Linked DNA regions of Homo sapiens. The protein of the gene in region 1 interacts with the protein of each later gene in a biochemical or structural test. Each region holds a gene or a part of one and is shown on either strand. Other genes may lie near its edges.

Region 1 (7,037 bases):
TTTCCCGTGATGTCTGGGGAGAGGAAAGTCAAGTATCAGGTGCTTTCCAAACACTGGATACTTTGTGGGTTTTTCTGCAGGATTTGATCATCCCTGCTCAGCTGGTTCCTTTGTCTCCCATGAGCATTTCAAATATTTCTTCTCATTCCTTCAAATATTCCTTCTTTAAAATTTATTGATGGCCTATTTTGTTGTATAGGACTTGTTTGAGCTATTACTTTTACAAATTTTTTTATTAGTAGTAGTTGAACATGGATGAACTATTTTTATGTAGTCAAGTATATCATTTTTTTTCTGTTTAATGTGTCCTCATCCCCATGATTTTTTTTTTTTTTTTGAGACACAGTCTCTGTCGCCCAGGCTGGAGTGCAGTGGTGTGATCTTGGCTCACTGCAGCCTCCGCCTCTGGCGTTCAAGTGATTCTCCTGCGTCAGCCTCCCAAGTAGCTGGGATTACAGGCACCCACCACCACACCCAGCTAATTTGTGCATTTTTAGTAGAGTCGGGGTTTCACCATGTTGGCCAGGCTGATGTTGAACTCCTGACCTCAGGTGATCCACCCACCTCCGCTTTCCAAAGCGCTGAGATTACAGGCATGAGCCACTGCAGTAGCCTACATTTCTAATTTTAGAGCTTCTAGTAGCCATATTAAAAGGTAAGAAGAAACAGATAAAATCATATTTTCTTTAATCCAATGTCTAAGATATTATCCTTTCAATGTGTGATGAATATAAGAAATTATTAACATGGAATTTTACACTCTTTTCTTGGATTAAGTCTTCTAAAGCCAGTGACTGTTTTGCCCTTGGCACATCTCCGATTGAACTTGCTACATTTCAAGGGCTCAATTGCTACACATGGCTGGTGGCGGCTACACTGGGTAGCACGGGCTCAGCTGATCTTCCCAGACGTGCCCTGAGTAGGTATTGCTGCATTTTACAGATGGGAGCTCTGAGGTACACAGAGGGAAACGCTTGCCTGAAGTCACCAGCTAGGAAGCGTGTGGCTGGGATGTAAACCTGAAATGGTCTGACCCCAGATAAATTGTACCTGCTTAACCCTTGTGGCTCCTCTCTCTCATCTTTTCATACAAAATGTTCATGAGCACAATTTTACAACAGAAAAAAGCTGTCCATGGAAAACACGTGAATGTCCCCCTGGAGGGCAAGTGGTGAAGGTAGTTTAACATCATCACAGAGAAGCCCTGAGCAAAGGGCAGACCAGAAACACTGCGCGTGGGTGGGGACCGATCGAACAAAAGAGAAAAGCAATTCAAAGCCACAAGACGGATTAGTCAGTGTTGACATGTGGAGACAACTGCTTTGTCCTTTGTTTAAAAACACTCAGATCACCTCCTTCCTCTCTGACACACACTCTTGCAAGGTCCAGCTGGAACTGATTTCAAAGCAAAACACAAAACTGTAAATGTGCTGGAAAAACTCAGTGAAAACTTTTGGAATTCTAAGGAAAGGAGGACTTTTTTTTTTTTTTTTAATTATCTTGGGGATGAGGCTGGATGCAGTGGCTCACGCCTGTAATCCCAACACTTTGGGAGGCTGAGGTGGGTGGATCTCTTGTGATGTGCACCTGTAGTCCCAGCTACTCGGGAGGCCGACGCAAGACAGTCGCTTGAATTCAGGAGGCGGAGGCTGCAGTCAGCCAAGATCGCACCACCGCACTCCAGCCTGGGCGACAGAGCGAGATTCCGTCTCAAAAAAACAAAAACAAAAAACAAAACTGATGAGATGCCCGTAAAGTGTTAATTCAAGCTCCAGCAAGGCCGCAGCCCCCCGTCTGATGCTCCTGAAGTCACCGACTCTAAATGGTGTCGGGCCCTCTTGCCAGTGACTAGCCCCATGCTTTAAGCTCTCAGAATCCTTCTGACATCAGGGTTCTTCCCTCTCAAGGCTTTCCACGAACCCTGTCACTAGTTGTGACCCGCACATGTCCTGTTCGCCTCACATTTAGGGCTTATTGTCTTTATTCTCACAAAGATGTCTCATCTCTCTTCTCCCTGCCGGCCCTGCAGTCCCTGGTACGTGAGCCCCTTTCCCGGCGCCGGCAGCTGCTCCGGGAGAACTTTGTGGAGACAGAGGGCGAGTTTGTCTTCGCCACCTCCCTGGACACCAAGGACATCGAGCAGATCGCCGAGTTCCTGGAGCAGTCAGTGAAAGGTGAGGGTGCTCACTTTTCTCTCCTGAGGTCTGCAGCTTGCGCTGACCCCGGCCTCCCAGCCTGTCCCCAGTCCTGGACCGTTTGACCAGAATCCTGCCTGCTCCGGCGCTTGTGAGCCAGGGCTTCCCAAGGACCACGCTTCTGTGTCTCCCTCAGACTCCTGCGAGGGGCTGATGGTGAAGACCCTGGATGTTGATGCCACCTACGAGATCGCCAAGAGATCGCACAACTGGCTCAAGGTGATTCTCGACCCCCAACTGGGCCTTCTCCACCCCGGGTCTGGAGGTCTGTCCCAGCTAGGCAGTGGATTTCGAGCCTCCACTGTGTACCCTGTCTGAGCTCAGGGCCCCTTTTCACAATCCCACCCCAGCCCCCTGCTGCAACTGAGTTCAGACCTTCTCCCTGCTGCGAGCCCTTGCTCACGAGTTCTGATGGAGAACAGCCCCAGCCCAAGCACCGCACATCCCACGAGGTGCAGCGTGATGAGGTGTCTCTCTCCTGAGCCTGCCGCCCGTGTCGGGCCAGGCTCTTGGGCAGGAATTAAGCCAGGACATGAATAAGAGAAAGTCAGGCAGGAGTGGGCGCCATGAAGAAAAGCAAGTCAGCTCCGGGCCAGCAAGGCGGGGCTGGGAGTGCCCCGGATGATCAGGAAGAGTCTTTCCCAAAGTGAGGGACAGAGCACTAGGGAGGAAAACCCCCGGTGCAGAGACCCTGAGGGAGGAGCAGCCTCTGCGTGTGCAGGGAGCAAGGGCAGGCGAGGCGGGAGGTGAGCTCAGAGTGGGGAGCAGGCCCCAGATGAGGCAGCACCTGGGGCCACTGTGAGATAAAACTGGATCTTCCTCTTGAAGGTTTCAGGAAGTCAGTGGGGGTTCCGTGCCGGGAGTCACAGGTTGTCATTGTGCGAAGCTCCTGGGGTTTCCCCTCGAGTGGAGGACGGGTGTGTTGAGGGCCAGCGAGCAGGAGCCTGTCATCAGTAAGAGTTGATGGATGTTTGAGTGGAGAGGGGCAGTGAGGGGTGGACAAGGGGACTGGAGCGGGAGGCATTGTGGCACTGAGCCGGCCAGGCCTGCTGACTAGCTCTTCCTGTGTACTTATGTCTGTCTGTGGCTGGTTTCCCTCCAGCACAGACCTTTCCTGTCTCAGGAAATAGCACTGTTGTGCCCCCAGGGCTGAGCTTCTGCCTGGCACATGGTTAGCACTTAGTGAACGTTTCTGAACGAATGGGAAAATGCTCTCCCTTTGGAGGAGTGGCCAGAGTGAGTTGGCCACGTCTCTGTCCTGAGGGAAAGACGGCGGCAAGGCTGACTCCTGAGGTCCCATCGATCCCGCCTGCGTTTCCCATTTGTTCTTATTTATTTATTTATTTATTTTAAGACGGAGTTTCACTCTCATTGCCCAGGCTGGAGTGCAATGGCACGATCTTGGCTCACTGCAACCTCCGCCTCCCGGGTTCAAGCGATTCCCCTGCCTCAGCCTCCCAAGTAGCTGGGATTACAGGCACACGCCACCACGCCCGGCTAATTTTGTATTTTTAATAGAGACGGGGTTTCTCCATGTTGGTCAGACTGGTCTCGAACTCCCGACCTCAGGTGATCCACCCGCCTCGGCCTCCCAAAATGCTGGGATTACAGGCATGAGCCACCGTGCCCGGCCCCATTTGTTCTTATTTAAACCTAGAAACCCTTCCCATGTCCAGTCTCTTCCCAGGGGCCATCCTTGGGGTTCCTTCTGGAAGTTCCCTTCAGACTTACTTCTAGTCCCTCCTCAGTCCACTGAGGAGCCCCTCCCCAGCAGTGAGGGCCCCGCCTTGGGCGCTCCCCCTTCTCATCTCTTGCCTCCCCTTCTCCCAGCTGAAGAAGGACTACCTTGATGGCGTGGGTGACACCCTGGACCTGGTGGTGATCGGCGCCTACCTGGGCCGGGGGAAGCGGGCCGGCCGGTACGGGGGCTTCCTGCTGGCCTCCTACGACGAGGACAGTGAGGAGCTGCAGGCCATATGCAAGGTCCTGGGGAACTGGGGCTGATGGCAGAAGCAGGAGGGAAGGAGATTAGACTCCCGGGGGTATTTCCTATTGCACAACCCAGACCGAGGGGTGCTCACATCCCCCTGTGAAGGATCCGTTCTCCCCAGTTTTTATTTACTTTTTCTGGTTCTATGAGCAACTCTTGCTTCATATAGAAAAACAGGCTGGGATAGAAAGATGTCAGGAATGTGTGTCAGTGAGAGATTGAGATTAGCTACAAATAGTGGTGGCTCACATAAGAAAAGAATTTTTTTGTTATGAAATGAGAAGTGTGGAGGGGGCAGTCTGATGCCATTAGGGATTCAGGTTCCTCCTCTCCCCACATTTTTTTTTGTCCCCACATTTTTTTTTTCTGCCATGTGCCTCTGGCCTCATCATCACAATGTGGCTGCAGGAGTTCCAGCCCTCATGGCCATGCCTGCTCCACGCACCAGGGAAGAGCAAAGGGGGTTGGACCCTGAGTCAGCCTCAGCCAGTGAACACCTTCTGCTCAAGTTCTGTTGCTCATCACTTTGCTCCATGGCTCACCCCTAGCTGCAAGGAATTCTGGGAAATGTAAAGTGATTTACTTTTTTTCAAGTTAAAGTTTTTCTTAAAGCTGTGCACATTTTGGACTAGATTTTCTTACGTATTTCCTATATTCCCCTCTCCAACAAATTTGGGTCTTTTGCCACAGAAACAGAACAAAATATCACCTAGAATCGTACCACCCAGAGACACGCAGTAGTGACATTTGAGGGAATGTTTTATTTACATTTTTGCAAAGTTGTGATCCTTCTCTATGAGTAATTTTCTTTTCTGCCTTTTTACCCTGGAAGTACTTTGTTTTCAGTGTTGTATATGCCCTTAAGCAATATGGCAACAGGACCTGAATGCCCGCACAAGAGTTTTCAAGTGCTGTGCCCCATAGCACATAGTGCTGTGTCCTGAACCAGCTCCCCGTGGCTGTGTGGGGAAGTTGTTGCCGGCTTTGTTCTGATGGGTAATGTGATTACTTAGTGTCCGTTAACCTAAACGATCAGTGACAGAAGTGACTTTTATAAATCACAAATGTTTTGGCCACCAATCTACATTGTCACCATTTTGCATTATTTAGAATAGATTTTTAAATGAGCTATTGTCAGGACAAAAGGCAAAAAGAATCCTTAAGACTCTCAATGCAAAAGGGGCTTTCCAGGTGACGTTTATATTGGTGATTATTGCCCACTTGCTGCGTATCTGCCAGCATCCAGCATTACTGCTAATTTTTAGCCTTTCCTATTTTGGTAGGTGAAAGAAGCTCTTGGCAGTGTTAACATTGGAGATGGGCTGGGCATGGCCACTCACGCCTGTAATCCCAGCACTTTGGGAGGCTGAGGTGGGAGGATCACTTGAGCCCAGGAGTTCGGGACCAGCCTGGGCAACATAGTGAGACCCCACCTCTACAAAAACTTTTTTAAAAAATTAGCCAGGCGTGGTGGTGCATGCCTGTGGTCCCAGCTACTTGGGAGGCTGAGGCAGGAGGATTGCTTGAGCCCAGGAGGTGGAGGTTGCAGTGAGCCAAGATTGCACCACTGCACTCCAGCCTGGATAACAGAGCTACACCCTGTCTCAAAAAAAAAAAAAAAAAAAAAAAAAAAGACTGGAAGTGAGGACAGCCAGTTACTGGGCAGTGAGGATGTGGGTGAGCATAAGGGAGTGACTTCCTGGGGCCAGGGAGACAGTGGAAGCAGCAAGAGTTTCTCCATAAAGCAGAAGACAGGGAGTGGTTCACGGCAGGCCTGCTGGGAGAACATTCCCACCCGGGAGTCTCTGGATGGATGCTCCGCACCCCCAGCTCCCTACTTCCCTGGTTTTCTGTGGATACTGCGTAGACCAGAGTGGGGTGGGGGCCATGAGTGTACACAGCTTTAGATGGCAGGAGCAAGTGCTGGGCCTGTGGCTGGCTGAGCCTCTGACCTCCCGCTTCCTCCCTGCAGCTTGGAACTGGCTTCAGTGATGAGGAGCTGGAGGAGCATCACCAGAGCCTCAAGGTGAGCCATGGCGGCTGCGCCTCAGCCTCCACCCCTCTCCCCCCTGCCCCTGACAGCACAGTCCTTCCATGCAGGGCTCTTGGCTTCCACCATCTTGGGGCTCCAGGTGTGGGCAGGAGGGCAGCAGGCAGTGGAGCTGGCTTTGGAGTCCAGCATCTCCAGGTTCATGTCTCAGCACTGCCGGCTACTAGCTGGTGACCCTGCTCAAGCAGCCTCACCTCCCCAAGCCCTGTGCCTCATTCACACCAGGGGTTAGCCAAAGGACACAGCAGGTGCCATAGCTGCTCCTTGTGAAGTGCCTGTGAGCCCTGATCAATGTGAATGAATGTTGTCATGGTCACAGGCATTTCAGGCATGAGTGTCTGTCCTACATATTGGATCTGTATTAGTTTATTTTCATACTCATACTGCTATGAAGAAATAACCCAAGACTTGCCGGGCGTGGTGGCGCATGCCTGTGGTCCCAGCTACTTGGGAGGCTGAGGCAGAAGAATTGCTTGAACCCAGGATGCAGAGGTTGCAGTGAGCTGAAATCATGCCATTGCACTCCAGCCTGGGAAACAGAGTGAGACTCTGTCTCAAAAAAAAAAAAAAAAAAAAAAGGATCATTTATAAAGAGAGGTTTCCTGGACTCACAGTTCCACACGGCTGGGGAGGCCTCACAGTCATGGCAGAAGGCGAAAGAGGAGCAAAGGCACATCTTACATGGCGCCAGGCAAGAGAGCGTGTGCAGGGGAACTGCCCTTTATAAAGCCGTCAGATCTCGTGAGACTTCCTCACTATCACGAGAACAGCACGGGAAAAACCTGCCCCCATCGTTCAGTTA
Region 2 (7,037 bases), on another chromosome or scaffold:
CTCATCACTCAACAGAATTTAACCAGTCTTTGAAGCTATTCTTTGAAACACTCTCTTCCCTTAGCATCTGTGATGTTACATTCTTGGTATTTCTTCTGTTTGTGACTTTTGAATTTTATCCATGTTTTCTTCTTATCATTTGGAATTCCACAGGCTTTGTCTTAGGTCATCCTCCTTTCATTACTTTTTGAGTTTTAATTAGATTTAGGCTTTCATCTTCTTATAATGGAAATTATGATGAAACTTAAATACCTTTAAAAAAGTAATGACTTGTTTTTGTGAAAGTGATTTATATACATTATACAACTCAAGCATCACAGAAAACATAAAGTAAAATTTACTTCAAATCCCACCACCAGGAATTAAGCAGTGTTAACATTTGGTGAGCATTCTTCTAGACATATTTTCAAAAATAATAGTTACAGTTACAATTACAGGATTTTAGTATGTGCCAGAATGATTGTAAAGTGCTTTAAATCCTTAAAACTATGTGGTAGAGTTATTGTTACCTCCTTTCACAGATGAGACAGAAGGGAAATAATTTGCCCAAGGTCATCATACATGTAATAAGTGGTAGAGATGGTATTCAACCAAGAGAGCTTGGAATTTGGTAAACTCAAGATAAAGTCAGACTGGATCTGCAGGGGGCATAAAGTGGTACCTCCTCTCTGTTTAAATTGTTTAATTTACTTAAACTATAGTTTTTGCCCAAGAACGAAGTCAGGCAAGTAGTAGAACCACACTGTACCTCAGTTCTCAACATTTGGCTCTGAGTTGTTTATTTAGTAATATGTTTTAACACAAACTCTATCAGTTTTTAGAAATTTGTTTAACATTGTCTTTTACTAATTTAGTATATGAAAATGATGATCAGCTCCTGTGGGACCCTGAGTACTTACCAGAAGATAAAGTGATTATATTTCTTAAAGATGCATCTAGAAGAACAGGTGATGAGAAGGGTGTAGAAGCAATTCCTGAAGGATCTCACATAAAAGACAATGAACAGGTCTGTGAAAGAAACAACTGTTAGAACTTTGCCATACACATTTATACATGTAAATGCTGTCACTTGCATTGTTGTTATTCTGTCCACCAAACTTTTTATAACATTATTGACAGGGAATCTGAGGTTATAATCCCTGTAAGATATCCGTTGTTACCACAGTGACTTCATTGGTGTGAAGCTCAAAAACGAAACAAAAACCTGTTTTATTTTGCCTGTATATACTTTTCATTAGGCTTTTTAAAATTCCTTTGGCTATCCCTAAGAATCTGTGTATATCAAGTTGGAATTCTCACCTCGGATTATCTTATGTACATGGTAAGACCAGTGCCTACCATGAACCTATCTTTTTTACCTTTTTAATCATTGTTTTTTTCTGATTTGTTTAAAATTATAGGAATCTCAAGAAGCCACAAAGAAGGGATTTTCATTGATATAAAATGAATTCTTTTTAGTCCTAGGGATACTATGGCCACCAAGTTTATGCATATCCTACTTTGTACATATTTAAAGGTAGTTGATTTATCAGGATCGAATTCATATTTGTTTTTCTTTGGAGTTCTCTATATATAACATTCACTAAAGTTATTTGCCCTCAAAAAGGATGAAAACACTGGATGTTTGAAAAACTTTTAAGAAATTGTAGCATTGAACTGTTTATAGTCCTTGTCACATATTCAAGCCTTTTATTTTTCTAGGCTTTATATGAATTGGTTAAATGCAATTTTGATACAGAAGAAGCATTGAGAAGATTAAGATTTAATGTAAAAGCAGCTAGAGGTAAGTATAGTTTTTATTCATTTTCATGATTTGGCAGAAATTTTAAAATTAAGCTTTTCAGTTTACCTAGGTATAGCCTAAACTTAATAATACTGATTTTTCTGAGTTTGATAAATATTTACAAAATACCAAGTATTACTAAACAAATCGTTACGGGGAGTGGGATTAAGATTGTCCCTTCCTCCTTTGTGGGAAAATACAGTCATGTAAGTAAAAATGTAAAAATTTATACTGCCTTATGCATTCAAGGCATATTTATAAATATTTTCTTATTTGATCTTGATAATTGCCCTATGAACTAGGTAGTATGACAGATAATACCTTTACTTAAAGGTAAAAATTGATGAGCCTGAGATCTCTGAACTAAAGTAACTTGGCGAAAGCAAACATAATTCATCAGTAATGAAGCCATGACTAAAATTTGGATTTTTCTTTTTTATACTATATCTGGCTCCTACCCCCCTTCACTAAGAGTACTACATATATATATATACACTACATATATATATATATATATATATATATAGATATGTAACAAATGAGAGATATTTATTTAACAAAAATTTGAGTGCCTTCTGAATTCTGAGGATGTAACTATAAACAAAGTCCCTTCCCCTCGTGGTGCTTAGAGCTTAGGTAGGGAAACTGGAAAATAGCTGATGAATTCTTCAAGGAAAATTAGAGGGTGCTATTGAAACCTGTAGTAATGGGACTTAACCTATTTGCAGAGAGGGTAGTGCTTTTAGGGAAAGCATTCAGAATGAAGTAATATTTTTGTTGGGATGCAAAAGAATTATCTCAGTGAAAGGGGATGAGGCAGGAAATAATTCTAAGCAAAGGAGAGACACCATGCACAAAGTCTGAAGTAAGAAAGAACATGGCAAATTTAAGGAATTGAAAGGTGGCTGAGATAGTTTGATCAGTAAGAATTAAGAAGAAAGTGGCACAAGTTGAAGCTGGAGAGGTAGGGACCAAATCATTCAAAATCTTATTAAATAAGGAATTGTTGTCACTTTATCTTTTGCAACAATTAGTAATAGAGCTCAGGAGTAAAATGCTTCCCTCATTTTTACGAGAAGGTTAAGTTTTCATTTGTAATTTTGTTATATGCAATAATTGGGGGAATATTGCTTAACAGTTTGTTCCTCCCATCTTGTCAGAGGAATTATCTGTTTGGACAGAGGAAGAGTGTAGAAATTTTGAACAAGGGCTGAAGGCCTATGGAAAGGATTTTCATTTGATTCAGGCTAATAAAGTAAGTAATGATAATCTCTTTTTTGCAAAAAGAAATTTAGTTGAACAACTCAAATGGTCATGTATCGTAATTTGTTATATTGTCTAGTGTTAAAGGTTTCATAATTAATATGACAATATTTTGGTATTTAGTGAGTAATTATAGTAAGGCTGCCTATACTTCCTAACCTATAATTACCTGTTGGTGACTGTTTTCAGTGCATCATATTGCAGGTGTTTAAGAATTGTACTCATTTACAAGCATGTTAATCAACTTCTAGTTGGGGTGTGTATGTGCAATGCAATTCTTTATAGCTGTTTTCCACAGTCTGTGACTGTTTTATGGAGGGCCTTTGAAATGATTTGGAAACTTTAAAGCACTTTCAATATGACATTATTTGCAGTTAAAATATTTATTACATTTGCTTAAGTCCTGAGTGGTCTAAAATCAAATACTTAATATTTAACTTAGTTTTAGTCAACATTTAATTTTCTAGGAGCTTCTGTGTCGATAAATCAGCTTTATATTCTTATAGTTATAATTTGAGGATTTTATTTAACATAATCATTTATCATTTCATGTTGATAATATCAGTCATGTAATTTATACTCCAAATAGCTTTATAATTACTTACAGATTTGTTTTGGGGCTTAATTCTTATAACTGAAATTAGGTATGATTTTTAATAGTAACCATATAATTATATAGAATAGAAAAATGTGTTGTTTCCATGAGCAACACATTAGGACAACAGATTAGGACAGGCAGAATTAAAGTCTTGGAGATTAAATGTAGGAAATTAATTCCCAGGCTTATGATTATCACATTATTTTTAGTTAGTAGAAATGACAAGGGTATTGGTTTATGTAATTCCTTAAAGATAGCTTCTAAGTTTTGTGTCGTAGCTTGTCCAGGACCTTGTTGAAAGTACCTGGGCTTATGTCTGAGGCTCTGAATAGTCTTCTGCCACAGCTCTCTTTTTATACATTTGGATGTGATTGGATTGTATCCAGTTGATTTTTTTGACACATATTTAATATTTTTTGTTATTAATAAAATATTTACAAATCCTGTGGGTTCATTTCTTAAATTTTGTCGTGCATTAACTAGTTTATTCTTATTTTTATTATTTTTTTTTTAAGTGGGAACTGGGCAGTGAAGAGCCCCACTCCCAATTAGTTCATTCTTAATTATTTTGTTGAATGTTGGCAGTTTACCGCAGATAACACTAATAGAGAAATGTTTAGTTTTAGCATTTAGGATAACTTAGAAGACAATGTAATTAGTTTCAAAAATGTATACCCCTAATGTTGTGTTCATATCATCTGATAACCTCAAATATAGTTAACATTCAAGAAAAGGAGTGCATTATGTGACTGGCCGTGTATGTTTTTGATTAAAAAAGAAAAAAGTTCGTTGTTTCATGGTTGAAAGGGACAACATTTTTGGATGAGGTTTTTTTTTTGTTGTTGTTGTTGTTGTTTTTTAACACTTCTGCTTGAATTAAAACACTCTTAACCAAACCATGCTGAATTACCTAAGGAAGGGACCCCTGGAATGATAGCTTATGTAACAAGCAGCAGCAACAACCCTGACCAATATGATTTTTTTAAAGGAGTTAAGAAATTATAGGTGACTTGAAACTTAGAGCCAAGTAACATAAGTATTAAAAGTATAACCTTGATTTCTCATAAATATTTGGGACAGTGGCATTTAAATGTTACAAGGTAGAAGTCAGCTGACCTCTACATAATACACTAAATTACTCTAGTGCACAAAAAGAGGACAGTAATTCTTTAAAAGGGAGACGAGTACTCTAGTGAGAATATCGAGTTTGTTTTTATGTCTGGAATTAAAGTTCAGATCTTAATCATAAGTTCTATTTTGAGGGCTTTTGTTGAAGATTTTTCATAATCTTAACTTTGCATGCCCCAAAATGACTTTATCTTTTTGCTTTCAGTAAAGTACAGTTGACTTAGTTCGAATCTATCTAGAAATAAGATCCTAGAGGAGACAAAAAACAGCTTGAGAGGATGATTTTTTTTAAAGTCCTGATTGCTGTCAGTCTCAGAGCAATATGGATCAGAGCTGTACAGTGCAAACGGGAAGAAAGCAAAATATATGTTGGGTAAGGGAGGGTATCATCAACATTTGTCCTTTAGGTGCAATCAGTGCTACAGAATATTTACTTCAAGAGCAGAAATTTATGGGATAAAGAAGTATATTGCATCCAGAACACATACAGACACTGGATTTCCTTTTAAATGGTCAGTATTGCCGGTGCAGTGGCTCATGCCTGTTATCTCAGTACTTTGGGAGGTTGAAGCATGCAGATTGCTTGAGCCTGGGAGTTCAAGAACAGCCTAGGCAACATGGCAAAACCCCATCTCTACAAAAAATAGAAAAATTACCTGAGTTTGGTGGCATGCAATTGTGGTCCCAGTTATTGAGGGTGCTGAGGCAGGAGGATTGCTTGAGCCTGGGAGGGCAAGGCTGCAGTTAGCGGTTTGGTGCCACTGTACTCCAGCCTGGGCAACAGAGCATGACACTATCTCAAAAAAAAAAGAAAAAGAAAGGAAAAAAGTTATCAGTATTTTATTTATATACATCAGCCCTAAATCCTCAGTATTTTATATATATACATCAACCCTACCACCAGTTCTCCCGGCTAAGTAACAAAAAGGAATTCTGTCAGCATCATTTAATTCCGTAGGCATTTAACATTATGTGAGGGGAGCCATTCAGTTGCACAAATAGGTACAGCACAGTAAGCCGCAAGAGTAACTTAGTAAACAAAGCATTAGCATTATTATGATACTTTTAACTCACTGTGGCATCTTCCCAGACTTTCTAGAGAGTAAATTAACTGAGTCTGGGTTGCTGTTGGGACTAGTAAGAGAATCTTTCAAAAGGGAATTTAAAGATACGCTCCCTAGGTACCCGTACTCTGTGAGTAAAAGTATTAGCAAACTGTTTATAACATTTATTTTAACATGAATGCCACTTCCAGGCCTTTTTTTTGTGTGTGTGTGTGTGAGACTGAGTCTCATTCTGTCACCCAGGTGGGAGTGCAGTGGTGTGATCTCAGCTTAATGCAGCCTCTGCCCCCACCCCCACCCCCTGCTGGGGTTCAAGTGATTCTCCTGCCTCAGCCTCCCGAGTAGCTGGGATTACAGGCACCTGCCACCATGCCCGGCTAATTTTTGTATTTTTAGTAGAGATGGGGTTTCACCATCTTGGCCAGGCTGGTCTTGAACTCCTGACCTCGTGATCCACCCCCCTTGGCCTCCCAAAGTGCTGGGATTACAGGCGTGAGCCACCGTGCCCGGCCAACTTCCAAGCATTTTTAATACAGGAATATATTTTTCTAGTAAATTAGGATGATGGTAGCATTTTAAAAAGCACAGTGCTGTATATCTGAAGACCTGTTGCCAATATATTATTTCTCTTAATAGATGTTTAGAAAGAATAGCTTTCAACATAGCTGCTACACTGTTGTATGTTATATATAGGATTATATTTCAGTTAAGGACTAGCCAAATTTATTTTCAAACTTCAGATGTTTATCATGAAGTAACTTTGTTAAAAAGGAGATTCTTAAAAGCAAGCATTTGTTTCTTACAGGTCCGAACAAGGTCAGTTGGTGAATGTGTAGCATTCTATTACATGTGGAAAAAATCTGAACGTTATGATTTCTTTGCTCAGCAAACACGATTTGGAAAGAAGAAATATAATCTTCATCCTGGTGTAACGTGAGTTAATTTTTTCCTTAAGAGCTATATATACATTTTTGCTAAGCTTTTCTAGATTTTTCTTGAGTTAATTATTATTTTGATAATCTTGCTTTTATATACTTGATCTTAACCAGAAGGCCGAGAGTGATAAAATCTTGCTTTTATAATACACATTAAACTTTACCATCTATTATATCTTCATAAATAAGGCATTTAGACTTTTCAGTGTCTTATGAAATATTGTAAACTACAGTTCATATTATGTATGAGACAAGCATATCATTAA

What was found.
Region 2: the proteins of LIG1 (region 1) and MIER1 interact in a test that uses a peptide from one of them, tested with the Homo sapiens proteins (one study listed by BioGRID).

What each region holds. Positions count from the first base shown.
Region 1 is NC_000019.10:48,118,311-48,125,347, reverse strand, and holds part of LIG1 (DNA ligase 1), read left to right. Parts: intron 1-2,029; coding exon 2,030-2,174; intron 2,175-2,331; coding exon 2,332-2,414; intron 2,415-4,025; coding exon 4,026-4,178; exon of another isoform or gene 4,179-5,181; intron 5,182-6,157; coding exon 6,158-6,211; intron 6,212-7,037.
Region 2 is NC_000001.11:66,969,954-66,976,990, forward strand, and holds part of MIER1 (mesoderm induction early response protein 1), read left to right. Parts: intron 1-854; coding exon 855-1,006; intron 1,007-1,701; coding exon 1,702-1,783; intron 1,784-2,943; coding exon 2,944-3,038; exon of another isoform or gene 3,039-5,565; intron 5,566-6,641; coding exon 6,642-6,769; intron 6,770-7,037. UniProt on the Homo sapiens protein: Transcriptional repressor regulating the expression of a number of genes including SP1 target genes. Probably functions through recruitment of HDAC1 a histone deacetylase involved in chromatin silencing.